Regions from separate parts of the Homo sapiens genome. Here region 1 is linked to region 2. Evidence: fine-mapped expression QTL. A gene starts in region 2. The other region holds a variant in brackets. All regions are shown on one strand. Distances are between the middles of the regions.

Region 1 (15,632 bases), 49 kb after region 2:
AATAGATATGGCGTCTGACCTCATGAAAAACAAAAGAAATATTTAGACTGGGAAGGAATATGGAGAGGACCAATACTCATGGATTCAGAAACCAGGACCAAGGATGTTAAGGAAGTAAAAAGAGCTACTAAGCTCAACAGCAAGTCAAGTTATTCCATGCCACTTTCATTTGAAAATTACTCTTAAATAGACAAAAACCACTATGCATTTGTAAAGTGTACTTACCAACAGCTTAGAAATGTGAAAAAATTATAAGAAACCAGAATGTTCTTATATGGAACAGAGAAGATGAAGATAATTATTAAAATAACAAGGATACCTTGATTCATGAAAAAATGAGTAGTGAATAAAAATAAAGAAGCAACTACAAGAACCAGAAAAAGTCACAGCCAGATTTGCAAATGGAAATATGTTTAGAAAAAATGTCTTAGCTCTGAGACTTACCACAATTAAGATCATAGCATTTATTTTACTTATTTATCTAATTTTCTGTCTCTCTTAACTATACTGTAAGCTTCATAAGGGAAGTTTTTTGTTGTTAACATTTTTGCTTTGTTTTTGCTTTATATTTTTTGTTTTCCTCTGATATAGCTCCAGCACCTGAAAATTTGCATGATGCACGGCATATGCTAAAGAAAACTATGTGTTAATTAAAAGAATGAATAAATGAAAAAATAATAATAGTAACAGCTTCTGGCAGGTCACTTTTCCCAGGTAGAGAGTCTGAGGAAATGGCCTCCCTTAAAGAGGAATTCTGTGTGCACCACGTTAAAAAATTTACCTAGTTCAGAGATATAAATTAGTTGTTTTAACTTGAAACTAGAGCACTGGTCACAAAATAATATACCAGAGGACAGTGCTTCAGCTGAATTACATAGACATGAAACAGATCTTCGGTGAAGCAGGGCAGTATTCAGAGATTAAGCTGAGTGTTTCATATACATCTTTTCGATAGATCAAATACATGTTTCGGCATCCACTTTTTTGCAGTATTATTAATAACCTACTCTTCAAATGGCTGGGAAAAAAATGCCGTGTATAAAAGACTTCTTTGGGAAAACCTGTAAGAATCAGTTGGAGAAGGAAAGGGGAAACGTTTGTTGTTCTTTTGGATGCTGCCATGAATGTAACATGGCAACAAACAACAAAATAACAACAAATAATCATTTTTCCATCAGATTTTTTTCAAAATATTTAAAATAGGTTACACAGATTATGAATTATGTATCATGGACCTACTTGTTCCATAACAGTGTAGACATCAAAACATTTCTATTATATAAAGTAAAAACAAAGAAAAACTAAGTAGGGAAAGACTGATTGATTAGAGTAATTTGTGTCCAATTGTCTATTACACTGATATTCAAAACATGGTAACAATAACAAAAATGAGTAGAGGTAAATGTTGACTCCCCTCGATTTAACTGTCTTGGCCAGTTTTAACAGTTTCTGTTCTTTGATTTAGAAGATATCTTCAAAGTTGAAATAACTTTGAGAAAAGTAACAAGTTTTTTTTGTTTTTTGTTTGTTTTGAGACAGTCTCACTCTGTCACCAGGCTGAAGTGCTGTGGTGTGATCTCAGCTCACTGCAATCTCCGCCTCCTGAGTTCAAGCAATTCTCCTGCCTCAGCCTCCCGAGTAGCTGGGACTACAGGCACCCGCCACCGTGCCCAGCTAATTTTTGTATTTCTAGTAGAGACAGGGTTTCACCATGTTGGCCAGGATGGTCTCAATATCTTGACCTCGTGATCCGCCCACCTCGGTCTCCCAAAGTGCTGGGATTACAGGTATGAGCCACCTCACCGGGCCTAACTCAAGTTTTATTAACCTTCTTTTTCTCAATTTTTCAAATAATTGACCAGATTCTCAGTTTAGTATGCCTCTCTTTTTAAGAACAGAATTTAGCTGGGAAAGTAGTAGGTCAGGAAGAGCAAAAAAGAGACAGGAAGGAGCATTGTGTAAAAGAGACTAAAATCATAAAGACTAGAATTATAGGGACCATGAGGATAATTTCATTCAATCAAAACTTTGAAATATGAGAATACTGAAGTTAGAAGAAGTAATGTCATTTACCCAAGGGACCACATTTAATAAAGTCAGAAGCAGACTGTGAACGAATCACTCTTGACTCCTCACACAAAGTTTTTTCTATTTCACTCTTATCACAGATATTGGGAGTTGAAAACTTCCGTAAGTTGAGCATCATCTCTGCATTTTATCTTTTTTTTTTCAGAGATGTGCTTCCCACTAGGCATTGCCTGCAGTGGACATCCAAAATCAGACCACAGTGACTGAGTTTACCCTGACGGCCTTTCCTGTTCTTCAGCAGCTTCAAATTTCCCTTTTTGCAGTCCTCTTGTTTACTTATATGCTTACTCTAACAGGAAACGTTGCCATCATTTCCCTAACATGTGCGAATCATCGCCTCCAAACCCCAATGTACTTCTTCCTCAGTAATTTGTCAATTTTGGACATTTTTTTCACCACCTCAGTTATCCCAAAGCTATTAGCCTGTCTCCTGCAGGACAAGAAGACCATATCTTTTGCTGGGTGCATCACCCAAACTTATTTCCTTTGTTTTCTTGGGGACAGTGGAGTTTATCCTCTTGGCAGTGATGTCCTTTGACTGCTACGTGGCCATCTGTGACCCCCTGCACTACACCATTATCATGAACAGCAGGGCCTGCCTCCTACTAGTTCTGGGCTGCTGGGTTGGAGCCTTCCTGTCTGTGTTGTGCCCAACCATTGTGGTGTCCAGATTGCCTTTCTGTTACAAGGAAATTAGTCACTTCTTCTGTGACATCACCCCTCTGCTACATGTGTCCTGTATAGACACTCATTTCATCGAGATGATAAACTTCCTCTTATCTTCCCTCATCCTCCTGACCTCACTGGTGCTCACCACTGTGTCCTACATCTACATCATTTCTACCATCCTGCACATCCCCTCAGCCCAAGGACGTCGGAAGGCCTTTTCCACGTGCGCTTCCCACATCACCGTCATTTCCATCGCTTATATAAGCAACATCTTCAGGTATGTGAGGCCCAGCCAGAGTCATTCAATGGGTTTTGACAAGGTGACAGCTGTCCCCACAATGGTGACCCCTCTTCTGAATCCCTTCACTTATAGTCTAAGAAATGAAAAGGTAAAGGCAGTCTTGAAAGAAGCAGTCAGCAAAATTATGTCCTCATGGCACAGGAGAACTTAAAACTTTAACCAAGCTTTTCTGCTCAGAATGGTTATTTTCATCTCTAGCTCAGTGTGGAGAAAGACAGATTTAGACACCAGAAAATCAAAGGCATATGGGAAGGTATGAATAGGCTCAGTGCCGCATCAGAGGCAAAGTACTGTAGTCACAGTTTAGAAGAGACAATTCAGCCATAGAGAAAATGACATTCCCTGAACTCTATGATTGAACCACTGTGCATTCACAATATCATGGATTAATGAAAAATACAAAACTAAAATCAAAAAACCTAAATTTTGAGCCTGGCTTTATCACCCTTTTTTTTTTTTTTTTTTATCGAGTGACACTTAGCCTATCTGACCATTTGTTTTCTCATCTGTGAAATGGGGACGTTGTGCTTTTTCTTTTTGTTGTTGTAGGCTTAGCTAAGATGGTCTAAGAAATGAAACCACATATAATTAAAAACAAACACTTCTACTAGTTCTTTTCAGATGTTGCAAGCCTTCAACCTTGATAGTTAAATATTATATAATAATAGTAACAATAGCAAGGAAGGAATAATAATAATAACAATAACATAATCCAGGGTTTATACAGTATACTTAAATATATACACATGTATTTCATTTATTCCTCCTAATAACCTTAGAAAGCTGATATCATTATCTCCATTTTACAGATGAGAAAACTGATGTTTACAGAGGTTAAGCATCTTGCCCCAAACTACATCATTGGTAAGTGGCAGAAATTTAGAATATGTGAACTTCAGACTCCTTTAGCACTCCACTATATTATAAAGTGTGGAAGGAAAACTTAAGAGGGGAAACCAAATTAGCCTGGAAGCTACCTTCTTTTTCTGAAGCCAGAAGCCAACAGTTAGACAGACCTGCAGATCAAGGCAGACCAGAAGTGGGATACAATTAGAATGGACTGAGAGGCAATTTGGTTTGAAAGGAAAACTATTTATTCAGAAGCCATAACTGACCATGAGTCTAGACTGATCATCTATAGCAACTGGCGAATATGGCCATCATATACAGAAGATGATCTTAGCATTCATTTGGTTGAGGAAAAAAAAAGTATCAGAAAACTAATCAAGCTTGCTTAAGTAAACTATGTACTTATCATAATAATCAAAAGTGCCATATGGAACCCCAGAAAATAAGAAACATCAAAACCTGCTAAGTGACAAAAAGAAGGAACTAGAAATTTGTAAGGAGCCAAGGTAGGTATTCTCTTCTCTTTAAGTCTCTGATTTCTCCTTAGGTCTCTCTGTAGCTGTATTTCTCTGTATTATTTTTCTCCATATACTTTGTGGTAGGCTGAATAATGGCCCCTAAAGATATCCAGGTTCTGACCTCTGGAAACGGTGAATGTTATCTTATGTGGCAAAGAGATTTTTGTAGATGTGATTAAGTTAAAGTTCTTGAGATGGGGGATTATCCTGGATTACCCAGATGCGCCCTACATGTAATCCCAAATGTCATCGTAAGAGCTAGGCAAAAGGAGATTTTATTACAAAAATGAAGGCCATGTGACGATGAAAGCAGAGAGAGATTTGATGCTGCTGCTCTGCTGGCTTTGGAGACAGAGGAAAGGGCCACAAACCAAGAAATAAACCTCCGAAAGCTAGAAAAGGCAACGAAGCTGATTTTCTCCCACAACCTCCAGCATGACTCTGCCAACACCTGGGTTTCAGCCCAGTGAAACTGTTTTTGGATTTCTTGCCCTCAGAACTGTAAAATAATACATTAGTGTTGTTTTAAGCCACCAAGTTTGTGGTAATTTGTTACAGCAGCCATAAGAAACTAATATACACCTGATTTGCTTTTCTGTCTCTGCAGTGTTTTTTTCCACTTTTCTGTGCACATGGAAGATAGCTGCTTTTGTCATTCACAAATATATGTATATACTCAATTACAGATATATATTCAATATATAAGGGTATAGATATTGAATGTATTTGAATGTATTGATATGTATTAAATTTAAGTGGATACATATTTAAAATGATCTGAGTTCAAAATCCAAATTTCTGGGAGGAGGATATGGTTGGTCCAACTAGAGAGAGATTTCCACTTCTGATTCACTTATTTGTAAGAAGAATGAGTCAGCAAGGTATCAAATCACCGTGTCCACAATGCCAATAAGTAGGTGCTGTGGGAGTAAGCTCTCTAAAAAGAGTGTAGGAATGGGAAAAAGACAGACTCTCTAGCTGAGTGGACAAAGATAGGGGCCTTAAGAATTGGCATGGAATCTCTCAGCAAAGAGCAGGTAAAGAAAGAGCTGTCTTAGGAATGAATTCAGAGTATTATAAGAGAGCACAGTCCATCATAAGATAACGAAGTGGACAAATGTTTAAAGACAAAAAGAAGGTAGACCAAAGTCAGCAAGAGTGAAGGAGTCCCGTAACTTTCTGCTCTGTGCTTATAATCAGAGCCTAATTAAGACAAGGTATCAAAAGTTACCATATTAGGTGATTATTGCTGCCATAACAAATTCCCACCAATTTGGCAGCTTAAAACAACACAGATTTGTTATCTCATACTTCTGTAGGTCAGAAGCCCAACACAGATCTTACCGGGCTAAAATGTCAGCAGGCTGCATTCTTTCCTGGGAGCCCTAGCAGATAATCCATTTCCTACACCTTTGGGTTGTTAACAGAATTCATTTTCTTGAAAGCTATACTATGGTTTCAACCTGGAAATTTGTTTCACTCGAGGAGGAAATTTATTCCACTAAATCTAAGAAATTGTTTGTTTTGCTATGGTTATGACATTGAATTAAGTGGTAGTGACAAAATGCTAAAAAAGACCTTTAACATTGAAACACTGTATACATTTTAATCATGAGCAGTAATACCTTTAAGAGCTTCTTAAAATCTTAAAGCCAAATCACCTATTTTGAAAAGTCATTTTAAAGCTGGAAGAAAATCCACTATACAGAATGTTTAAATAACTTTGTTTGAAGAGTGGGATTATAATTATATCTCTTTTTCCCACATTTTGGAGCTTTTAAAACTTGGGAAGCATATGTCAATTTTAATATTGGAAAAATTAACAAACATAATTTTCATAAACAATAAAATATATATTAGAAGGAGAGTTAAGTTCAGATGTTTCCTCAAGTAGGAGATATGATTTAAAACTTTTCTTTTTATTTTACAGTTAAAGAGAAAAAACTGTCATGAGTTCACTTGAGTAATAGACTTATAAAGAATACGTTCTTACTAGCGCAGAGACTGAAGTTAAAAAAATTTTTTTAAATTTTTTAAAGGAATACATTCTTAAATTGAGATTCCTCCTCCATAAAGATAAATGCAAATCCTTGAAAATGTCTACATCTTAAGAACCCGGTTATTTTTAAAATATTAATATAATTAAATACTCCAAAGATTTTTGTAAACCCTTGGATTTATGAAATTGAAAGTATAAACTGAGGGAGGTGTCCTGAGAAAAACTGAATGGAGTATTCTTTTAATGGTCACATTCCCACTCCACATTCCCATTCCCATCTGCCACACAGAAACTGATCCCCTTCCTCAAACCTTATACAAAAATTAACTCAAGATAGAGTAAAGACCTAAATGTAAAACCCAAAACCATAAAAACCCTAGAAGAAAACCTAGAAAATACCATTCAGGACA[T/C]AGACATGGGCAAAGACTTCATGACTAAAACACTAAAAGCAATTTCAAGAAAAGCCAAAATTGACAAATGGTATCTAATTAAACTAAAGGGCTTCTGCACAGCAAAAGAAACTAGCATCAGAGTGAACAGCCAACCTACAGAATGGGAGAAAATTTTTGCAATCTACCCATCTGACAAAGGTCTAATATCCAGAATCTACAAGGAACTTAACTAAATTTACAACAACAACAACAAAAAAAAAACCCATCAAAAAATGGGCAAAGGATATGAACAGATGCTTCTCAAAAAGGACATTTATGTGGCCAACAAACATAGGAAAGAAAAATCATCATCACTGGTCATTAAAGAAACGCAAATCAAAACCAAAATGAGATACCATCTCACGCCAGTCAGAAAGGTGATTATTAAAATCTCAGGAAACAATATATGCTGGTGAGGCTGTGGAGAAATAGGAACACTTTTACACTGTTGGTGGGAGTTTAAATTAGTTCAACCACTGTGGAAGACATTGTGGCAATTCTTCAAGGATCTAGAACCAGAAATACCATTTGACCCAGCAATCCCATTACCCAAAGGATTACAAATCATTCTACTATAAAGACACATGCACATGTATGTTTATTGCAGCACTATTTACAATAGCAAAGACTTGGAACCAACCCAAATGCCCATCAATGATAGACTGGATAAAGAAAATGTGGCAAATATACACCATGGAATACTATGCAGCCATAAAAAAGAATGAGTTCATGTCCTTTGCAGGAACATGGATGAAGCTGGAAACCATCATTCTTAGCAAACTAACACAGGAACAAAAAACCAAACACCACATGTTCTCACTCATAAGTGGGAGTTGTGCAATGAGAACACATGGACACAGAGAGGGGAACATCACACACCAGGGCCTGTCAGGGGGTAGGGGTGAGGGGAGGGAGAGCATTAGGACAAATACCTAATGCATGCAGGGCTTAAAACCTAGATGATGAGTTGATAGGTGCAGCAAACCACCATGGCACGTGTATAACTATGTAACAAATCTTCATATTCTGCACATGTATCCCAGAACTTAAAGTAAAATAAAAATGTCAAAAACAGAAAACATACGGCAAACTTATGAAGTGTTGATATATTTTTTTAATTCCAAAAGTAATATAGGGCTCTATTTCCAATAAGCAGCCTGAAAGAATTGCACCTTTGAAAAGAAATCACCCTCACAAATAAAAAAAAGGCTAAAATTAGACAGTCATCAAAAAAGAACTGCTTAAAGCCTGGCTAATTAAAAATGGCATAACAAAGCAGAGATAGATGGAATATTTACTAATTCTTTTTCTTTTTTTTATTTCTTCTAAAATAAATGGGATACATGTGCAGAATGTGTAGGCTTGTTACATAGGTATACATGTGCCATGGTGGTTTTCTGTACCTATTGACCCATCCTCTAAGTTTCCTCCCCTCACCTCCCACCCCGCAACAGGCCCTGGTGTGTGTTGTTCCCCTCTCTGTGTCCATGTGTTCTCAATGTTTAACTCCCACTTATGAGTGAGAACATGCGGTGTTTGGTTTTCTGTTCCTGTGTTAGTTTCCTGAGAATGATGGTTTCCAGCTTCATCCATGTCCCTGCAAAGGACATGATCTCATTCCTTCTTATGGCTGCATAGTATTCCATGGTCTACTAAAATTTTAATGAATCATTATAAAAGATGAGTGGTCCTGATGTTTCACCAACTCTTCAACCTGTAAAAGGACCGCAAGAGATTCGCTCAATTTATACTAGCTTTGATATTTTTTTAAAACTGATTATTTTTTTTAGGGTGGTTCACATCTGTAATCCCAGAACAGGGAGGCCAAGATAGGAGGATTGCTTGAGTCCAGGAGCTCAAGATCATCCTGGGCAACATAATGAGACTCTGTCTCTACAAAGAAAATCAAAAAAGTGGCCAGGCACGATGGCTCATGCCTGTAATCCCAGCACTTTTGGAGGCTGAGGCAGGCAGATCACGAGGTCAGGAGTTCGAGACCAGCCTGGCCAATATGGCATAACCCCGTCTCCACTAAAAATACAAAAATTAGCTGGGCATGGTGGTGCATGCCTGTAGTCCCACCTACTCAAGGGGCTGAGGCAGAAGAATCGCTTGAATCGGGAGGTGGAGGTTGAAATGAGCCGAGATCACACCACTGCATTCCAGCCTGGGCTACAGAGCAAGACCTGTCTCAGAAAAAAAAAAAAAAAAAAAAAGAAAGAAAGAAAGAAGGAAAAAAAAAGAAAGAAAGAAGGAAAAAAAAGAAAAGAAAAGAAAGAAAATTTTAAAAGTTAGCTAGGCATGGTGGTGCATGCCTGTAGTCCTAGTTGCTCCAGAGGCTGAGGCGGGAGGATGCTTGAGCCCAGGAGTTCAAGGCTGCAGTGAGCCATGATCATGCTACTACAGTCCAGCCTAGAAGACAGAATAAGACACTGTCTCAATAAAATATAAAATAGAATAAAATAAAATAAAAAGAATCCATAATCCCTGCAGATATAGTGCTGACCAAAATGGTGTATGGCAAAAAGCAGGGTTATGAATCTGAGAGATGAGAGAGGCTAAATATCCTAGCACAAAACCCAACAGGCGAACAGAGCCAGTTTGTATGGGCATAGGTAAACTGGCCTGGGAACGGTAAAGTAAGTTTACTGGGGCTGCTGGACACTTGTGCACAACACGCTGTCATACACAAATGTAATATTGAAAAGTTAAAAGACAATTGATTAAATTAGGGGATATGGTGATGCACACCCAAAAATAAGGATTTAAAGTAAAAATCTTTTCTATAGTTTCCTTATTGTTTTTTCCAGCCTTATTGTGGTGTAATTGACAATTAAAAATTGTATCTATTCTAAGGTGTACAATGTTATATTTGATATATATTAAATATCTGCTGCAAATGTCATCATTTCATTCCTTCTTATGGCTGAGTAGTATTCCGTGGTATATATATGCCACATTTTTCTTTATCTACACATTGACCGATGGGCATTTGGGCTTGTTCTATATTTTTGCAATGTGAATTGTGCTGCTATAAACATGCATGCTCAAGTATCTTTTTCATATACTGGCTTCTTTTCCTCTGGGTAAATACCCAGGAGTGGGATTGCTGGATCAAATGGTAGGCCGACTTTTAGTTCTTTACGAAAACTCCACACTGTTTTCGTAATGGTTGAAACACTGTACACATAGACTGTGGTTGAAACACTAATACATAGACTGTGAAATGATCACCACAATCAAGCTAATTAACATATGCATCACATCACGTTACCATTTGTTTGTTGGTGTGTGATAAGAACACTGAAGATCTACTCTCTCAGCAAATTTCAAGTATACAGTGCAGTATTATGAACTATAGTCACCATGCTGTACGTTAGATCTCCAGAGCTTATTCATCATGCATAACTGAAACTTTGTACCCTTTGACCAACAACTCTTCCTCATGCCCAACCACCAGCCCCTGGCAACTACCATTCTACTCTCTGCTTTTGTGAGTTTGACCTTTTTAGATTCCATATGTGTAAGTAAGATCATTTAATATTGGCCTTTTCTATGGTCATTTATCCCACTTAGCATAATACTCTCCCACCTCCTACAGGTTCATTCACGCTTTTGCAAAATCAGAGGTTTTTTTTTTTCTTTTTTAAGGCTGAAAAGTATTCCATTATATTTACATACCATGTTCTTTTATCCATTTACCCATTGGTGGACACTTAGTTTGTTTCCATACCTTGAGTATTGTGAATAATGATAAAACAAACATGAAAGTACAGCTGTTTCTTTGAGATCTAATTTCAAGTCTTTGGACATATACCCAGAAATGAGCATGCCAGATCATCTGGTAATTCTATTTTTAATTTTTTGAGGAATCTCCATATTATTCTCCATAATGGTTATACCAATTTATATTTCTACCAACAGGCTACAAGATTTCTCTTTTCCACCCGTACTCACCAACATCTGTCATCCCTTCTCTTTTTGATAATAGCCATTCTAACAGGCATGAGATGATCTCATTGTGGTTTTGACTCATATTTCTCTGATGATTAGTGATGTTGAGAACCTTTTTCATATACCTATTAGTTACCTGTATCTCTTCTTGGGAAAAATGTCTATCCAGATTCTTTGCCCATTTTTAATTGGGTTATTTGGTTTTTTGCTATTGAATGTTTGAATTCCGGATATTAACTCATTTTTTTATTTCAATAGGTTTTTGGGGAACAGGTGGTGTTTGGTTACATTAATAAGTTATTTGGTGGTGGTTTCTGAGATTTTAGTGAACCTATCACCCAAGCAGTGTACACTATACCCGATCTGAATTTTTTTTCATCCCTTACCCTCTTCCGACACTTTCCTCTGAATCTTCAAAGTCCACGGTATCACTCTTATGCCTTAGTCCTCATAGCTTAGCTCCCACTTACGAGTGAGAACATGCAATGTTTGCTTTTCCATTCCTGAGTTACCTCAATTAGAATGATGGTCTGCAATTCCATCCACATTGCGGCAAATGCCATTATTTTATTCCTTTTAATTACTGAGTAGTATTCCATGGCATATATATGCCACATTTTCTTTATCCACTCGTTGATTGGTGAGTTTTTGGGCTGGTTCCATATTTTTGCAATTGCGAATTGTGCTGCTGTAAACATACATATGCAAGTTATCTTTTTTGTATAATGACTTCTTTTTCTCTGGGTAGATACCCAGGAGTGGGATTGCTGGATCAAATGGTAGATCTACTTTTAGTTCTTTAAGGAGTCTACTTTTAGTTCTTTAAGGAATCAGCATTTTCCATAATGGTTGTACTAGTTTAGATTTCCACCAACAGTGTAAAAGTGTTCCCTTTTCACCACATCCAGGCAAAAATCTATTTTTTTAAATTTTTTGATTATGGCCATTCTTACAGGAGTAAGGTGGCATCACATTGTGGTTTTCATTTGCATTCCCCCGATAATTAGTGATGCTGAGCATTTTTTCATGTTTGCTGAACATTTGTATATCTTCTTTCGAGAATTATCTATTCATAGCCCACTTTTTTATGGGATTTTTTGTTTTTCTCTTGCTGATTTGTTTGAGTTCCTTGTAGATTCTGGATATTAGTCCTTGTCAGATGTATAGATTGTGAAGATTTTCTCCCTCTCTGAGGGTTGTCTGTTTACTCTGCTGATTATTTCTTTTGCTGTGCAGAAGCTTTTTAGTTTAATTAAGTTTCATCTATTTACCTTTGTTTTTGTTGCATTTGCTTTTGTGTTCTTGGTCATGAAGTCTTTGCCTAAGCCAATGTCTAGAAGGGTTTTTCTGATGTTATCTTCCAGACTTTTTATAGTTTCAGGTCTTAGATTTAAATCTTTGATCCATCTCGAGTTGATTTTTGTGTAAGGTGAGAAATGAGGATCCAGTTTCATTCTTCTACATTTGGCTTGCCAATTATTCCAGCACCATTTGTTGAGTGAAGTCCTTGCCCACTTTCTGTTCTTGTTTGCTTTGTCGAAGATCAGTTGACTGTAAGTGTTTGGCTTTATTTCTGGGTTCTCTATTCTGTTCTATCGGTCGATATTCCTGTTTTTATAACAGTATCATCCTGTTTTAATGGCTATGGCCTTATGGTATAGTTTGAAGCCAGGTAATGTAATGCCTCCAGATTTATCCTTTTTGCTTAGTCTTGCTTTGGCTATGTGGGTTCCTTTTTGGTTCCATATGAATTTTAGGATTGTTTTTTCTAGTTCCATGAAGAATGATGGTAGTATTTTTTATGGGAATTGCATTGAATTTGTAGATTGCTTTGGGCAGTATGGTCATTTTCACAATATTGATTCTACCCATCCATGAGCATGGATGTGGCAACCCACCTCCTTCAAAGAATCTGTGGATTCTCTCAGCTTTTCTAGTATGTTCCTGCAGTAGTTCTTAGAGCAAAAGTCACAATGTGGGTCTCCACATGCTGCTTTGCCCGTCCAAGTGGGAGCTGCAAGTTAGTCCTGCCTCCTATCTGCCACTTTCCCTTGGTTATTAAGTCTTTGTCAGATATATGGTTTACAAATATTTTCACCCAAGCCATAAGTTATCTCTTCCCTCTGTTGATTGTTTCATGGTTAGGCAGAAGCTTTTTAGTTTCATGAATTGCCCTTGTCTAACTGAGCTTTTGTTGCCCATGTGTTTGGTGTCAACTAAAAAATCATTGCTTACACCAAATTGAAAATGCTTTTCCCCTATGTTTGTGTCCAGGAGGTTTACACTTTCAGATCATACATTTAGGTCTTTAATCACATTTGAGTTGATTTTTGATAGGAGGCAGTACTAACTTGCAGCTCCCACTCGGACAGGCAAAGCAGCATGGGGAGAGCCACACTGTGACTTTTGTATATGGGTCCAATTTAATTCTTCTGTGTGTGGATATCCAATTTTCTCAATATAATTTATTTAAGAGACATTCTTTCCCCACTGTGTGTTCTTGGCATCTTTTTAAAAATCAATTGACCATAAATGATAAATTTAATTATGGGGTCTCTGTTCTGCTTCATTGGACTGTAAGTTAGATTTTATGCCAGTATCATGCTATTTTGATTACTATAGGATTGTAGCATTTTTTGAAGTAGGGAGTGTGATGCCTCCAGTTTTGTTCCTTTTGATCAAGATTTCTTTCATTCTTTGGGGTCTTCTGTGGTTCCTTACAAATTTTAGGATTTTTTTCTATCTCTTTGAAAAATGTCATTATAACTTTGATAGGGATTCCATGGAATCTGCAGATTGCTTTCAGTAGTATGAACATTATAAGAATATTTATTCTTGGGTACTTTCCATTTCTTTCTCTTGTATAATTGCATAATTGTTCTGACTAGGATTTCCAAGACCATATTGACTAGAAGTGGCAAGAGTGGACATCCTTGCTTTGTTCCTGATTTACAAGAAATGATTTCACCTTTTCACCATTAAGCATGATGTTAGCAGGAGATCCAAGATGGCCAAATAGGAGCAGCTCTGGTCTGTAGCTCCCAGCATGATTGACACAGAAGACAGGTGATTTCTGCATTTCCAACGGAGGTACCTGGTTCATCTCATTGGGACTGGTTGGACAGTGGGTGCAGCCCACACAGGGCGAGCCAAAGCAGGGCGGGGCGTCGCCTCACCCAGGAAGCGCAAGGGGTCGGGGGATTTCCCTTTACTAGCCAAGAGAAGCGATGACAGCCTGTACCTGGAAATTCAGGACACTCCCACCAAAATACTATGCTTTTCCCAAGGACTTATCAACCAGCAGACAAACAGATTCTCTCCTGGGCCTGGCTCTGCAGGTCCCATGCCCACGGGGCCTTGCTTACTGCTAGTGCAGCAGCCTGAGATTGAACGGCGAAGGGACAGCCAGGCTGGGGGAGGGGTGTCCGCCATTGCTGAGGCTTGAGTATATAAACAAAGTGGCTGGGAAGCTCAAACTGGGCAGAGCCCATCGCAGCTCAGCAAGGCCTATGGGCCTCTATAGATTCCGCCTCTGTGAGCAGGGCATAGCTGAACAAAAGGCAGCAGACAACTTCTGCAGACTCAAGTGTCCCTGTCTGACAGCTCTGAAGAGAGCAGTGGTTCTCCTAGCATGGTGTTTGAGATCTGAGAACAGACAGACTGCCTCCTCAAGTGTGTCCCTGACCCCTGTGTAGCCTAACTAGGAGACGCCTCCCAGTAGGGGCCAACAGACACCTCATATAGCCAGCTGCTCCTCTGGGATGAAGCTTCCAGAGGAAGGATCAGACAGCAATATTTTCTATTTTGCAATATTTGCTGTTCTGCAGCCTCTGCTGGTGATACCCAGGAAAACAGGGTCTGGAGTGGACCTCCAGAAAACTCCAACAGACCTGCAGCTGAGGGACCTGACTGTTAGAAGGAAAACTAACAAGCAGAAAGGAATAGGATCAATGTCAACAAAAGGGACATCTACACCAAAACCCCATCTGTAGGTCACCAACATCAAAGACCAAAGGTAGATAAAACCACAAAGATGGGGAGAAACCAGAGCAGAAAAGCTGAAAATTCTAAAAACCAGAGCACTTCTTCTCCTCCAAAGGATCACAGCTCCTTGCCAGCAATGGAACAAAGCTGGAAGGAGAATGACTCTGACAAGTTGACAGAAGTAGGCTTCAGAAGGTCGGTAATAACAAACTTCTCTGAGCTAAAGGAGGATGTTTGAACCCATCACAAGGAAGCTAAAAACCTTGAAAAAAGGTTAGATGAATAGCTAACTAGAATAAACAGTGTAGGGAAGACCTTAAATGACCTGACGGAGTTGAAAACCATGGCACGAGAACTTCGTGACGCATGCACAAGCTTCAATAGCCGATGCAATCAAGTGGAAGAAAAGGTATCAGTGATTGAACATCAAATTAATGAAATAAAGCAAGAAGATAAAGTTAGAGAAAAAAGAGTAAAAAGAAATGAACAAAGCCTCCAAGAAATATGGGACTGTGTGAAAAGACCAAATCTATGTTTGATTGGTGTACCTGAAAGTGATGGGGAGAATGGAACCAAGTTGGAAAACACTCTTCAGGATATTATCCAGGAGAACTTCCCCAACCTAGCAAGGCAGGCCAACATTCAAATTCAGGAAATACAGAGAACACCACAAAGATACTCCTCGAGAAGAGAAATCCCAAGACACATAACTGTCAGATTCACCAAGGTTGAAATCAAGGAAAAAATGTTAAGGGCAGCCAGAGAGAAAGGTTGGGTTACCCACAAAGGGAAGCCCATCAGACTAACAGCGGATCTCTTGGCAGAAACACTACAAGGCA
Region 2 (15,632 bases):
ATTCAAGCTATTCTCTTGTCTCAGCCTCCCGAGTAGCTGGAACTACAGGCATGCACCACCACGCCCAGCTAATTTTTGTATTTTTAGTAGAGACAGGGTTTCACCATGTTGGCCAAGATGGTCTCGATCTCTTGACTTCATGATCTGTCCACCTCGGTCTCCCAAAGTGCTGAGATTACAGGCATGAGCCACCGCACCTGGCCGTGTCTTTTTTCATAATTCTTCATCTTGAGTCCATTTCCCACTAACCTGCTCAGCATTTCTGTACTATCTTCCATTTGTTTATGATATATAAGCATGAGCATTTTTATATCTTTATTGAACATTTGGATATTCTTTTTGTGACATGTCTTGTTCATGTGTTTTATCCAGTTTTCTCTTGAGCAGCCTTTCTCATATTTATTTAAAGCAATTCTCCATGTATCCTGGATACTAGTTCCTTGTCAAATATGTGTATTTCACACATCCACTCCTTATCCAGCCATCTGCTCTCTCTAAGGCAGAAACACAACTAACAGCTCTCTAAAGAGACAAAAGTGTGAATAATTCTTTTGGAGGTCATGAAAGAATCTCCTTATTAATCAGTCTACTGCTGTGAGAGCTGAACTCCACTGAGATCTTGTCAGAAGGAAACAAAAAAGGACATCAAATGAGGCTAAAACAAAGCTACATTGATTGCTACACTGGCAAGAGAAAACTGTATCACTCAGTGTTGAGTTCTTAGATCACTCTGAGCAGAAAATGAAAGGACTAAATATGGGCAATAGGAAGAAATACATCATATAAGGCAGAACGCTGAATCCAAGACTGTGATTGCTGGATGAAGTGGATTATAAGTTCTTTTTGTAAATGTTTGCCTTCAGTTTTCTCTTCACCAATCCTGGGAAGCCTAGAGTTAGGTCTGGAGTGTATTATACAGATTCCAGTGGAATCTATATAACAGTGGATGTAGGGTCATTGACTGGTTACATTTATATATTACTGAATAAATTTGGCAATACGTATTTTGCTAAGTATGTATTTTGCTAAAAGTATGTATTTTGCTAAGTCAAAGTAGATGATCAAAATATCTATATTTTGCATGATTTCAATTTATATCACATTCTACAATGTTTTTGTTACATTTTTTGAGCTTATTGTAACTTAGTACACCAATGGTATAGCACTTTGCCTCTTGATGCTAACGTTGCCCCCTCAACAACCAATCGTCTTTGTAAAACACAGATGACAGCAGCTAGGGTTCCCCATCAGCAAGTAAGGAGCCGTTTCTGAACAGGCAATACTAAGAGGATGTCTGAGATCTGACAGGTCAGAGTACTGGCTACTGGAGAAACAAGAGGAAGTTGCTTGTAAAGTTCAAAGGACCAAAGTTCCAAGAAGGTGCTTTACTAGAGAAAAGGTAGGGACCTAGGAAGTTTAATGAGTCACGTGGAGTCTGGAATGTGATAGAAAAAAACAAAGTATCTGAATCGTGTTTCAATAGGACAAGGGTCCTATTGATCTGAGAATTTGAAAAGCCACACAAATTCCTCTTCCACCTCCTTCATTGGCTTGCCTCCATTGTTGCAAAAAAAAAAATCCATAAAAAGTCAAAATATAGCATGCATAAAAAGATACTATAATTTTCAAAACAGAAGATGAAAATTAAAAATTCTGAGCAAATGATAGAACATACACATACATGCATACACATACACATACATGCATAAACATACATGCATACACATTAGCAATAGCCAATAAAGCAGAGAAAAACTATAACGCATAACTGACATAAATTTTTTAAATTGAACAAATAATTTCAGATATAAAAGAACACTTTGAACAAAAAAAATGTCCAGGTTACAGTAATAAAATAACAAATATTTCAAAAATTGAGCAAAATATTTTAACACATACTTTACCAGAAAATGTATGTAAGATGATGAATTTGCACCTGAAAACATTCTTTATGACATTAGTCATAGGGAAAATACAAATCAAAACCAAAATGTGAGATACCACAAATCAAATCTCAAATCTATGAGAATAGCTGAAATTGAAATGGCTAACAATATTGAGTGCTGATGAGGATATGAAGCAAGGGGAAATCTCAAACACTGCTGTAGGGAATACAAATGGTACAGCCACTTTGGAAAACAGTTTAACACTTTCTTGCAAAGCTAAAAATACACATACCACACAATCTCATTTTTAGTATTCACCCAGGTAAAATGAAAACAAATGCCCATACGAAGACCCACATGCTAACATTTATAGCACCTTGATTCAAGATAGCCAAAAACTGGAAAAGCCAACATTTCCATTTGCAGGAGAATGATAAACAAATTGTGGTATAATCATCCAATGAAATTCCATTCAGTAATAAAAAGGAATGTACTACCCATATACCCAACAAAGTAATGCATCTGGAAAGTACGTATTTTGCAAGTCAAAGTAGATGATCAAAATGTCTATGTTTTGCATGATTTCAATTTATATCACATTCTAGAAAAGGCAAACCTATAAAAACAGAAATCAGATCAATGTTTACCAGAAGGTAGGGGTGGGAGAAGAGGCTGGCCACCAAAAAGCATGAAGAAACGTCTCAAGATAATAGACATGTTCCATGTATTAAATATTATAGTGGTTACGTAAATGCACACACTTATCAAAATCTCATCTATCTGTACACTTTAAAAGGGTGGACTTTATTATTTGTAAATTATACCTCAGTGAACATGATTTTAGAAAACATATTGCCAAAGTCTGTTAAACAGTTTATTTTTTTAAAACTCAGAATAAAAATAGGTAAGCATTATGTAGGTGTAAAACAGAAACTAACAGAACTAAAATAAAAAATTGAAATTTTTAAATAAAAAATGACCCCTATAGAGAGTTTAAACACATAATTTTCCATAAAAGAAATGGGGAAAAGTTACCAATGAGCTACGATGCATAAAAGCATAGGCACAGAGGGTTTTGCAAAAGAGTTCTACCACAACTCTAAGAGCTAGTAAGTCCAATACTGCAAACTGTTACTGAGCATTGGAAATGAAAGAACATTTCCATCTTTCTATGTTGGAATGAACATAACACTGATTTAAAACCTGATATTGATTGTCCATTCCTAAAAATTTACCTTACTATACCCACCAGGGCAAAGGTACTAAAAGTAACGTTCATTGAACATTTAAAAATAATATGTATAACCAAGTGAGGTTTATTACAAGAATGGAAGAATTACAGAATATCAGGAAATGCATTAATATAATTCATCATCTTAATAGATCTAATTTGAAATTACACATTCTTCTCCACAGATACCAAAAAATCATTTAACAAAATTCAACACCTAATCTGTTTTCTTTTTAATTGATGAGATGGGGATCAATTGCTACTTTCTTAAAAGATGAAGCATGTATTATATAATGGAGAAACATTGTTTCAATTAAGGTAGGACAAGGACAAAAAAACCTACTATTGCTGCTACTGTTGGACCTTGTAATACAAGTCTCTGACAAATGGAAGAACCAAGCAGAAACAATTAGAGGCATAAAAATTATAAAGAAGGAGGTAAAAATAAATCTCTGTTAAGAACATATAAAATCATAACTTGAAAACCTCAGAGAATATAAAAAATAATTTTCAATAACAGAATAACAAGAATTTGGTAAGAATTCAGTAGGAATAAAATTAACATACCAAAACCATGAGACTTTGTATATACAAATTATAACCAATACAAAAATGCAATGGAATAGGAGATCTAATCAAACTATATAGCCATAAAGACAGATGTCGACACAGCTATTTCAAAATAGGACATATCCTGGCAGATTAAAACACAGAAGAATTAAACTAATCAATAAAAAACTGATTTATATAACCTTCCATCACACATAAATTTCATTATTGGTATAAGAATTTTACCTTTTTGTTTGCTGACAGAATATTCAAAATTAATCATGTGCTCAGCCACAAAGGAAACCTTGACAAATTCAAAAAATAAATTTTTCAGTATATTTATTTATTTATTTATTTATTTATTTGAGACAGAGTCTTGCTCTGTTGCCCAGGCTGGAGTGCAATGGCACAATCTTGGCTCACTAGAACCTCCGCCTCGTGGGTTCAAGCAATTCTCCTGCCTCAGCCTCCCAAGTAGCTGGTATTACAGGCATACACCACCACATCCCGCTAATTTTTGTATTTTTATTAGAGACGGGGCTTTACCGTGTTGGCCAGGCTGGTCTCAAATTCCCAACCTCACGTGATCTGCCTGCCTTGGCCTCCCAAACTGCTGGGATTACAAGCATAAGCCACCATGCCCGGCAAGGTATATTTATTACAATTTATTTTTAACAAAGGAAAAAAACTTTAAACAGTGATCTAAAATTGATAGCTGCTTGGTAATTAAGAATTTCTCCCAGACAATCCCTGAATTCTTGGTGAAATCAAACCTAAAATTAAACACTGTCTAATAAGAAGCAAAATAGTAAAAAAAGTTACAGGAAACGTATGAGATATAGCAAACTCAGTGCCTAAAGACAAATATATGGTCCTAAGTCTACACATATTAAAGAATTTAAAACTATTTTAAGAAGTTCAAGGGATACAAGCAAAAACAAAAGGAAAATAATAAAAATAATAACTCAAAATAATGAAATATGATCTTGAAAATAATATTTTCAAATGGATAAATACCTAAATAAATGGACCTTGAAAAGACCAACAAAACTGATAATAAACCATATTAAGAAAAAACAGAGTACGTGAATCTACAGCAAAAAAAAAAAAAATCAATCCTCATCTTCTAGTGACACAAATATTTAACCATAAAATTATGTCAGGATTTGGTTCAGAATAATTCAGAGGATGAGCTTTGAAGCTGGATGAAGGATACATGGGAAGTCATTATACTACTGTCTATTTTCAAAATCGCACATTTCACCTTGAAGCTACAATGCTATTTTTCTTTTTCCCTTTATCATTATTTATTTGCTCTTGTCACCTGTTAAAAGAAAAAAAAATTATCCTACTACTTCTCTCATCATTCTACTGAAAATGCTATGGCCAAAATCACCAATGACATTCTAATTGCCAAATCCAGTGGCCTTTCCTTTTCTATCTCTTATCACATTCTGTGTGATATTTCTGCATATGTGACATGCACATCTAGGTTTCAATTGCTATCTCAAGTCTGATAACCCGTTGTCTATTACTCCCTGAATGCACCCAATCTCATTCAAGGTTGATAACCCTCTAATCTCCTGTCAAGTTCCAGAAGTAAATTTTTTCTGTATATTGCCTGTTCTAAGCACCTTCAGCTTAACCAGACCAGTGCTTACTATATGGCACCTTTGACTAGCTGGAATGGCAGGTGGAATGGCAGCTGGAATGCCATCTGGAATGGAATCTTTGACTAGTTCTCCCTAGCTAAAAACTTGATTTCTTTTTGACATGTATCTTACTCATCCTTCACATCCTATCTCTTTCTCTAATTTGGCTACATCTTTAAATCTTTACTGCCACTACCAGTTAAAACCAAAATGAAACAAAAGCCTTTCAGCACAGGAATTCTACTCTTAAGAATCGATGGCATAGAAATAAAATTATCAACATGAAAGAGCATAATAGGAGTTTCCCATATACCCTCTTGGTCCCCCCACTCCCCTAGGCCCCAGGGTCAAGGGTCAAACCAATAGTTAATTTCATGGCAGCTGGCAACCCTAAAAACAAGCTGACCCTGATATGGGATTGGTGAAGGGTGGGAGTTCATCCCCACAGCTACCAGAAGTGTTAGCTGCTGTGGCTTGCAGTTTCTAGGAGATTTAGGAATATCTCTTGAGAAAGAAGGGAAATCACACCCTAGGGGCAGCCAGATGCTCAGTGTAAAGGCTAGGCATTCTTGCCTCTATAAAGAATGACTCTGAAGGACCACCCCAGAGCCAGAGCACCTCGTGGGGTCAGCCAGGGCTTCTTCTGTTGCACCCACACCTCAGTTCAACTTCTGCTCAAACCTGCTTCCCTTAAACAATTACAGGTGTGGTTCCCAAAAGTGCTTCACAAAAAAACTCCCTGGATACAAATTCCTGCCTCAGAGCCTTTTCCCAGAAAACCCAAATTAATACTATGGTAATTGCTGACAGATCATATACTATGTGCCAAGGACTCTTTCAAGTGCTTTATGTCTCTAAACGTATTTAATCTTTACAAAATCCCTAGGTAGTAGGAAGCATTATTATCTCTAAGACCACACAGCTACTGAGTGGTAGAGCTACAATTTAAAACCAGGATCCTTAGTCCGTTTTCTTAACCCTAAAGCCTTCCTCATAAGATTAAGTGTATTGTTGAGTATTGTGCTTAAAAATGAAAACGATAAATAATAATAATAAAGTATACAAAGATGTGTAGAGAGATCTAGAAGAAAGACAGCTTGACATGTTTGAGGTAATAAAAAAAAGTCTATTTTGAGCCAAGGAAAGTCACCTGCATTGAGGTCAGAAAATACGCAGAGTGAGGCCTTTGGAGATGAAGTTCATCTTAGTTGTGTAAAAGGCAAATTTTTTTTTTTTTTTTGGATTGTAGCAGAAGTCCTCTAGCTCTTGACTCTGAGGCCTACCATGTTTGCCTACTCAAGGAATCGAAAACTGTTTTATATGCCAAGTTAGAGGCAATTCTGTCAAGAAATGATTGTCCATGCCTTATAAATGAGATTGGGCTATAATGGCTCAGTGTATCTATCAGGCCAGTAGTTTGGTTTCAGGATGATGGTTTATTTCCTGGATGACTCCCTAACTAAATGTCACTGGGACCTCCCAATGGGAACACACATTTCTTCAAACATCCTAAATTTTGAGTGGTCATTCCCTGTTGTGATACTAGCTAGCTAACTATTTATCTCAATGATCTTGAAATCCTTTTCCTCTTCACTGGCCCCTACAAAATGTTAACTAATCTTGGAGCGTGTAATTCTAACTCCTAAATTGGACCTCTTTAGTCATGCACGTCTAACTTAATTCAAGGCCTCTAATGATCCCTGTATGTGACAGCTCTTTCTACATGTGATGTCAGATCCCTATATCTGATAGCTCTCTCAGGACTTCTGGACCCCTTGGTTCTTTCACTCCACTAGGCCCCAGGGTCAAGGGTCAAACCAATAGATGATTCCATGGCAGTTGGCAGTCCTGACAGCAGGCTGGCCCTGATAGATAACGGAAGTGAGGAAGGGTGAGAGTTATCTATCTTCTCTGTTTTATAGACTACTTCAGCTTCTGCTGTTACCAATGCCTCAGCAACCACTGAAAGTTCAGATATCACCCTTCTTGTAACTAATCAAATCAAGGAAGAGATCTACAAAATAGTGGTGGTGGTTCCAGCTAGAAATTTTCACTCACAATGGTGCATGTTTCAAATAGAAGTATCCAGGGTATGAACATACTTTTCTCCTCCTGGGCCGTAGTCTTAATGGTGATGGGAATCACCTTAGATAAATGGGTTGAATTGATTTCAGAAGATGAAAGAGCCAAGATGAACCACAGTCCTTGGATGATGTGTTGCCCTGCTCTTTGGCCAGAAGGTCAGAACTGTACTCTAGAAAGAGACGGGTGGAAAGGAAGGGTGTGTCCTTAACTTGGCTTTCCTTAACTTGCATTAATCTCACCAGTGTACCCATTATTTTCTGGTGCAGCTTCTCAAGTTGCAGTGTTCTTCCTTCCTTCCATAGTCAATACAGTCAAGGCAGATTCCAAAATCTCACCATTTAGGTGTTCTGGAGAAAAGTTTATATGTTCACAGCCTTAACTGCTGGGCATTTGAGAAGTCTCAGCAGTAGCAGCAGGGTGATCCACACAACTAGACATGTGGGTAAGAAAGAAACGTAACTGGCATTAAGTAATCTGTATTGCCACTAGATGATGGAGTGAATTGCGGTATTTAACAAGAATAGAGTTTGAAGAAAATAATAGAAGAGAAAGACACATAGAGAGACATCAGGATAGAGAAAATGTTTTTGGTTCTCTTATTCAGCTTAAGGTTCCCCTGCTTGTTATTTTCCAACTTCTTTCTTATTGTTTAATCAAATCTTTCACCCTATTCCAATTTTCACCTAGAGACTTCTGGACCCCAGGTAGAAATGAGTCTAGAAGAAATATCTGTCCTCTCAAAACAGCTTTTGCTTTCCAACAGATGACCTGAAAGTGGTCAGGATTATGATGACGTCGAGCCTTGGCCTTTCCTTCCTCCTTAACTTAATCCTGGGTATGAAATTCACCTATCTGATTCCTCAAAATAAATATATACAACTCTTCACTACCATCCTCAGTTTCTTCTCAGGTAACTTCCTGGCTCCCCTAACACAAGCTTGTAGGTGTACTTTGATGGGTGGGTTCAGGCTGCAGTCTCTGAAAACTATATATATATATATGTAGCTTCTGAGTTAGATCTACCATAAAAGCAGGATCAGGATCAGTCTTTGGGCAAGGTGTAGTTGGACCGGGTGGGGGTTGGGAAGTCAAGTGTATATGGAATGAAGACTTGCATCAAGGAGCCAAAGTTCCTCAGAAGGGACTTTTTTCTTTTTCTTTTTTTTTTTTTTTTTTTGTCTGGACATCAGGTATCTCTCTGCTCTGGGCACTCATACTATATCACAATAAGCTGAAGCAAGGTCAATCCATGCACTTCTCTAGTTATAGGATCACCTGGATCATGTATACTGCTTACTTAAATGTTTTCTTCTTGTCTGTCTGTGGTGAGTGTCTCCAGGGCCCCTGAAGGGTGTTAAGAACCAATCCATCCCCGACAGAGGGAAGGGTAAAAAGATGAGAATAGAGGGAAAAGTGCCAAACCTTGCATTTTAAAAGGCTGCAGCTCACCTGGATTCATTCTCTGATGACAGTTCCTCCAAGAAGAGTGGGAGGTCAGGCCTATGTGAGATGTCTGCTGTGCCTGGCCTCAGAGGGTAGCTCCCCATCTCCGCCTTTTATTTGCCTTTCACACCCTCCCCGCTTTGGGGCAGAGATAACCACCAAAGTCATGACCAAGGTGGGTGTCTGAGACAGAATGCTCAGCCTCTGTGGAGAGGAACAGTGACCTTGGGAGTACAGTGTAGTGTCAAGGCAGTTTGAGGGCAGAGAGAAACAACATCTGATGCTAGATGGCCATCTACCGAAACCGAAGTCTCCCCTTTCCTAAGAAGTCTTTAAAATTTCATTTGTAATTACACTTCCTAACCCAAAAAGAAGCATGTTCTCTTTCAAAAAGAATCCTCAATTTTCTTAAGCTGAGCAGAATTTAAGCTATTGTACATACACTTCCGGTTTCTTCCACTAAAGCATTCACCTCCCAGATGGCTTTCGGTAGTTAAAAGGGATCCACTGGGCTTTGGGTCAGGGTCTTCAGCCAAATTGGAGAGAATTGTTTCTGACTCTCCATTGTCCCTTCATCCCACTCCCTGGAATCTCTTTTCCCTAGGAGTCCTCTCTCTCCTAGAGTGCAAGTTGTCTACCAGTAGCTGTACCTGCCTGAACATCCATAAATCTGACAACGAATGTAAGGAATCTGAGAATTCTATCGAAGATATTTCATTACCAGAATGCACTGCAATGCCTCGTAGCATTGTCCGTGCACACACTGTGAATTCCCTAAACAAAAAAGTCCAAACACGTCACGTAACCTGGGCTCTGTGATTTGGCAATCTATTTCTTGCAGTATATGCTCATCTTTATGGAAAAAGCTTTGTGGGTGTGTGCTGTGTCTCCAACCATGTTGTCTCTATTTGGAATTATGGTTGGGGTTTGTAAAAAGATCTGGAAGATGGTTTTTTAAAAAATCCTGGCCTGCTGAACGAATAGTTTCTTCTGCAACATTTGTTGTTAATATAATAAATATTATCATATAAATAATACTTTCTGTATTGTTAAGTCTATACATCACAAACACTTATAATGATATATAACAGTTGTATTGTGAAATATTTCAAACATACATAAGAAATACAAAATGATGATCAAACACCTATGTACACATCAACCCAACTTTATAAAATTTTAACATTATTTCCTGGAGAAGTTTTTCCGTTAAATTTATAGATATAACTGATGTTCCTCTAAAAACTTCTCCAATTTCATTTCCATCTCTTGTTTCCTATCATAAAACACTTTTAAGGATGCGTTGCTGATGATTCTACATTCATGTTGACATTTTCACTACAAATTTATACATCTATAAAAATTATATAGACCAGCTTTTCAAATGTTTGAAAGTTGATCAATATTACACTGTAGAGATCATGTTGTATTTATTTTCATAAATTGCTGAAATAAATCTTCTAATTATTTTAGAATTCCTGAATCTATCTATGTAAGTAAAACTTGGTTCCTTCATGCCTTTTTGTGGTTCATACTTTGTGGGGCTAAGTAATATTCCATCGTAAGACTGTACCACAGTTGGTTTATCTATTTCACCTACTGAAGGATATCTTGGTTGTTTCCAAGTTTGGGCAGTTATGAATAAAACTGTTATAAACACCTGTGTGCAGGTTTTTGTGTGAACATAAGCTTTCAACTTTTTTGGGTAAATACCAAGGAACATGATTGCTGGGTTATATGAGAAGAATGTGTTTAGTTTTGTAAAAAACTTCCAAACTGTCTTCCAAAGTGGCTATACCATTTTGCATTCTACCAGCAATATATGAGAGTTCCTGCCGTACCACATCCTTGTCAGCATTTGATGTTGTCAGTATTGTGAATTTTGACCACTTTAATAGATGTGAATGTGTCTTATTGTTTAAATTTGCAATTCTCTAGTGATTTATAATGTGAAAAGCATCTTTTCATATGGTTACTTGGCATCTATGAGGTATCTGTTCCATTCTTTTGCCCTGTTTGTAATCAGCCTTTTCATTTTTTTGGTGAGTGTTTAAATGTTATTTGTATATTTTGGATAACAGTCCTTTATCAGATATGTCTTGCAAATACTTTCTCCCAGCCCGTGGTTTGTATTTTCATTCTTGACAACGTCTTTTGTAGCACACTGGTTTTTAATTTTAATAAAGTCCAGCTTATTAATTCTTATTGTGCCTTCAGTGTTCTACCAAAAAGTCATCATCATACTCAAATTCATCTACATTTTCTCCTGTCTTATCTTCTAGTTTTATCTATTTCCATGATTCATCTTGATTTAATTTTTTTGGAAGGTATAAGGTCTGTGTTCAGATTTCTTTGTTTTCATGTTGATGTCCAGTTGTTCTGGCACCATTTATTGAAAAGCCTTCATTGAATTTCCTTTGCTCCTGGGTCTATTTCTGGACTCTCTGTTCTATTCCGTTGATCTATTTGTCTTTTTTTTTTCACCAAAACCACATTGTCTTCATCACTACAGCTTCATAGTAAGTCCTGAGATCAGGTAATGTCAGTCCTCTGACTTTGTTCTTCTGAAATATTATGTTGGCTATTCTGGGTCTTTTTCATCTCTCTATAAACTTGAGAATCCAGTTGTCAATGTCCACAAAATAACTTGCTGAGATTTTTATTGGAATGTGTTGAAACTGTAGAATAAGTTAGGCAAAATTGACATCTTGACAATATTGAGTCTCCCTATCCATGAATATGTAATATATATCCATTTACTGAGTTATTTGATTTTTTATCAGAGTTTTGTAATTTTCCTGGTGGATTTTATTACAGTTGGTGCAAAAGTAATTGCGGTTTTCAACCATTACTTTTAACGACAAAAAGCCACAATTACTTTTGCACTATAGTATTTTGTTAGATTTATAGCTAAGTATTTTAATTTGGGGGATGCTAATGTAAATGGGATTGTGTTTTTCACATTTCAGATTTCACGTGTTCATTTCTGGCATATAAGAAAGCAATTGACTTTTATACATTAACCTGTATCCGGGAGTCTTGGGTTTTTTTTTTTTTTTTAATCTTTCAGGTTTTCTATACATACAATCATGTCATCTGTGAACAAAAAGTTTTATTTATGACTTCCCAATTTGTATACATTTTCTTTTCTTCTTGCACTTTCAGCACGTCTAGGATGATGTTGAAAAGGAGCGATTAGAGGAGACATATTTGCTTTGTTCCTGATCTTAGTGGGAAAGCTTCTCATTTCTCAACATTAAGTATGATGTTTAAGTCAATTTTTTTCTAGATGTTCTTTATCAGATTGAGGTAGTTTCCCTCTATTTCTTGTTTTGGGAGAGTTTTTATTATAAACCAGTCTTGGATTTTGTCAAATCTTTTCCTGTATCTATTGATATGATCATGTGATTTTTCCTTGTTAGCCTGTTATGTGATGGGCCACATTAGTTGATTTTCAATGGTGAAATATCTTGTTGAAGATTTTTGCATCTACCTTCATGAGAGATGTTCTGTAGTTTATTTGCTTATAATGTCTTTGTCTGGTTTTGGGTAACACTACCCTTATAGAATGTTTAAAATTCCCTCTGCTTCTGTCTTCTGGAAGAGGTTATAGAAAATTGGTATAATTTCTTCTTCAAATGTTTAGCACATTTCAGAGGAGAACCTATCTGGGCCTTGTGCTTTCTATTTTGGAAGGTTATTAATCATTAGTTCAATTTCTTTAATAGATACAGGCCTATGAAGAGTGTTTGTTTGTTCTTATGTTGGTCGTGGCACATTGTTTCTTTCAAAGAATTGGTTATCAAATTTGTGGCCACAGAGGTGTTCACAAAATTATTTTATTATTATTTTACTCCCCATGGGATCTGTTGTTATATGACCTCTTTCATTTCTGATATTAGTAATTTGTGTCTTCTCTTCTTTTTCTTACTTAGCCTGGCTGGAAGTTTATTAATTTTACTAATAATTTTGCAAAACCAGTTTTTGGTTTTCTTTAATTTTCTTTACTGATTTCCTGTTTTCAACTTCATTGACCTCTCTAATTTTTTTCTTCTGATTATTTTGGATTTGATTTACTCTGCTTTTTCCAGTTTCCTAAAATGGAAGTTTAAATTACTGATTGTAAATATTTATTCTTTTCAATTACAGTTGACCCTTGAGCAACACAGGTTTGAACTATGTAGGTCTACTTATACATGGATTTTTTTCAATAAATATGTTGCAAAATATTTCGGAAATCTGTGACAATTTGAAAATTCTTGCAGACAAGCTGCATAGACTAGAAATATCAAAAAAATTAGAAAACATTGCGTGTGTCATGAATGCATAACAGCTGTAGATACTAGTCTATTTTATTATTTACTACCACATTATATACACAAATCTGTTATAAAAAAGTTAAAATTTATCAACACATGCACACAAACACAGACAATATGTAGTACCAGTTGCAATTGAGAGAAATACAAAAAAAGCAGTGTTAAATAATAACTGCATAAAATTTACTGTAGTACATGTTGTACTACTGTAATAATTTTGTAGCCACCTCTGTTGCTATTGCGTTGAGCTCAAGTGTTGACCATCCACTGAAAACGGTATGACACTAATCATATCCATGTGAGCAGTTTGTCTTTCTGGTAAATTGCATATCACAGTAAAAAGTAATCTCTCATGATTCTTGCATATTTTCATGCTTAGTGCAATACAGTAAATCTTGAATAACACCATGGGACTCATATGAAGTGCCACTGGTGATGCTGAAAGTGCTCCCAAGAGGCAAAGTCATGAAGTTAGAAGAAAAAGTTGAATTGCTTTATATGTACCATAGATTGAGGTTTGCAACTGCAGCTGTTCACCATTTCAAGATAAATGAATTAAGTGAAAGGATCGTAATATAAAATGAAGAACAAATTTGTGAAGCTATCACTGAAGTTATGCCAGCAAATAAAAAAAATGTACTTTTTGCTAAATACCTTTTAATCTCACATTGAAAATGTAGCTTTTGGCGCGGTGGTTCACGCCTATAATCCCAGCACTTTTGGGAGGCTGAGGTGGGCAGATTTCCTGAGGTCAGAAGTTCAAGACCAGCCTGGCCTACATGGGAAAACCCCATCTCCACTAAAAATACAAAAATTAGCTGGGTGTGGTGGCAGGTGCCTGTAATCCCAGCTACTCAGGAGACTGAGGCAGGAGTATCTCTTGAACCCAGGAGGCAGAGGTTGCAAAGAGCGGAGTCCATGCCATTACACTCCAGCCTAGGTGATAAGAAGGAAACTCCATCTCAAAAAAAAAAGAAAGGAAAGAAAATGTAGCTTTCATGTCACTGAAGGATTGTTATAAGAAGGACATACCTGACCGGGTGCAGAGGCTGATGCCTGTAATCCCATGATATGTGTAAGTGGAGATATGCAATCCCTCTTATTAAAAAGAAGGGTGCATAATGATGGAACAATAATACAATCTACCAATGTTGCTTAATGTTTGCTTTGTATATCCCTTTTCTATTCTTTTGTTTTTCAATTACTACTTCTGCTTCTGTATTAGGTGTGCCTCGAATAAACAAACTACACTTGAATTGCTTAGTATCCCTTTTCTATTCTTTTATTTTTCAATTATTACTTCTGCTTCTGTATTAGGTGTGCCTCAAGTAAACAAACTATATTTGAATTGCTTAAGTTAATGCAGCAATCTCTGGCTTTTAATAGATAGAAATGTCAAAGCTTCAAGGCTTTGATAGTAAGAAATTGATGGGTCCCAAAGACTGAATTTGTGTCCTTGAATAGAGGCGCTAAGAGCCACAATGCAAAGAACACATACAGGATACACTGTCAGAGAGAAATGTTAATTGACCACCTCTCCATTCCATGTCTGGCTGCTTTGGAAGGTGTCGATCCCATATCTTTTTGAGATTACTTTTTAAATCTAGAAAATATCTGTGTTCACTTATTTACATCTAGTCATCACTCTAATTCATCAACCTTAGGGCTTTAGGCTAGTATAAGGATTAGGTATAGACTAATATAAATATGGAGAAAGTTACCTTTTATAGATCTTTGCAAAAATAAGAAGAGTTTATCTGCATTTTAACAGAGAAATAAAGGTACGTTTATTATTTCAGGCCATTAGAAGGATCATTATTGCAGCATTCTTAGGAAAGAAAAATATGACTTAATTTTGTCAAACATTTAGAAAGATTAAAAGTTTTCATGTTTCCAGTTTCCACAATGCTCTAATGCAGGCCACCAAGCTTTCATTAACTGAATAAAACAAAACAGCAGGAACAATTCCCCTAGAGTCCCGAGGGAGTCTATTTGGCATTTCCCACTAAACTTCGTAATTGTGACTGATTTTTCAGGCTTAAAATGCTTTGATTACAACAATAGTAATTAACCTCTTTCACTCAATGTTCCCAAGAGTCATTCTCAATCAAATCCCTAAGAGCAAGCATGAGCTTCAAATGTCACAGTTTATTAATGGCCTATTTTAATAGAGAAAAGGACATGTCACGTCCTAGAGTCAGAAAAAGAGGTAGAAGCTCAACGTTCCATTTACCTTATAAAGGATGTGGAGTTTTCAGAATATATACATAAAAATAACTGGTAAGCAAATTCTAAGTCAACGTAATGGCAGATTTTATGGTAGAGATGGACAAAGATGTAATGGACTATCCACAGTAAGTCTCTCAGGCTAGAACAATATTTTGGAAGAATATTGATATTTTGACCTTGATAGGACTACGTGATCCTAAATATCTCTTTCAATCCTGACATTTTTTTCTGGATCTTA

Which allele goes with the higher level. Alleles are on the strand shown, and positions count from the first base shown. SD is a standard deviation of normalised expression in the study named.
As copies of T replace C in region 1, the expression in testis of the gene that starts at base 7,133 in region 2 goes up (moderate effect, 0.66 SD a copy in GTEx).

The links. PIP is the estimated chance that this variant, and not a neighbour inherited with it, causes the effect.
Region 1: its variant is fine-mapped to the expression of TMEM225 in testis (GTEx, PIP 0.97).

Annotation. Positions count from the first base shown.
Region 1 is chr11:123,828,532-123,844,163 of GRCh38, reverse strand. It overlaps the pseudogene OR6M2P. Among named protein-coding and RNA genes, the nearest start is that of OR6M1, 30 kb to the right of the region's middle. RefSeq lists an enhancer at 2,236-3,435. The variant T/C (reference allele first, on the strand shown) is at 6,835.
Region 2 is chr11:123,877,171-123,892,802 of GRCh38, reverse strand. It overlaps TMEM225 (transmembrane protein 225), which reads left to right and starts at 7,133. Exons shown (of 4, transcript NM_001013743.3): 1 at 7,133-7,558; 2 at 8,167-8,313; 3 at 8,594-8,728; 4 at 9,451-9,883. The coding sequence starts at 7,378. The coding sequence ends at 9,665.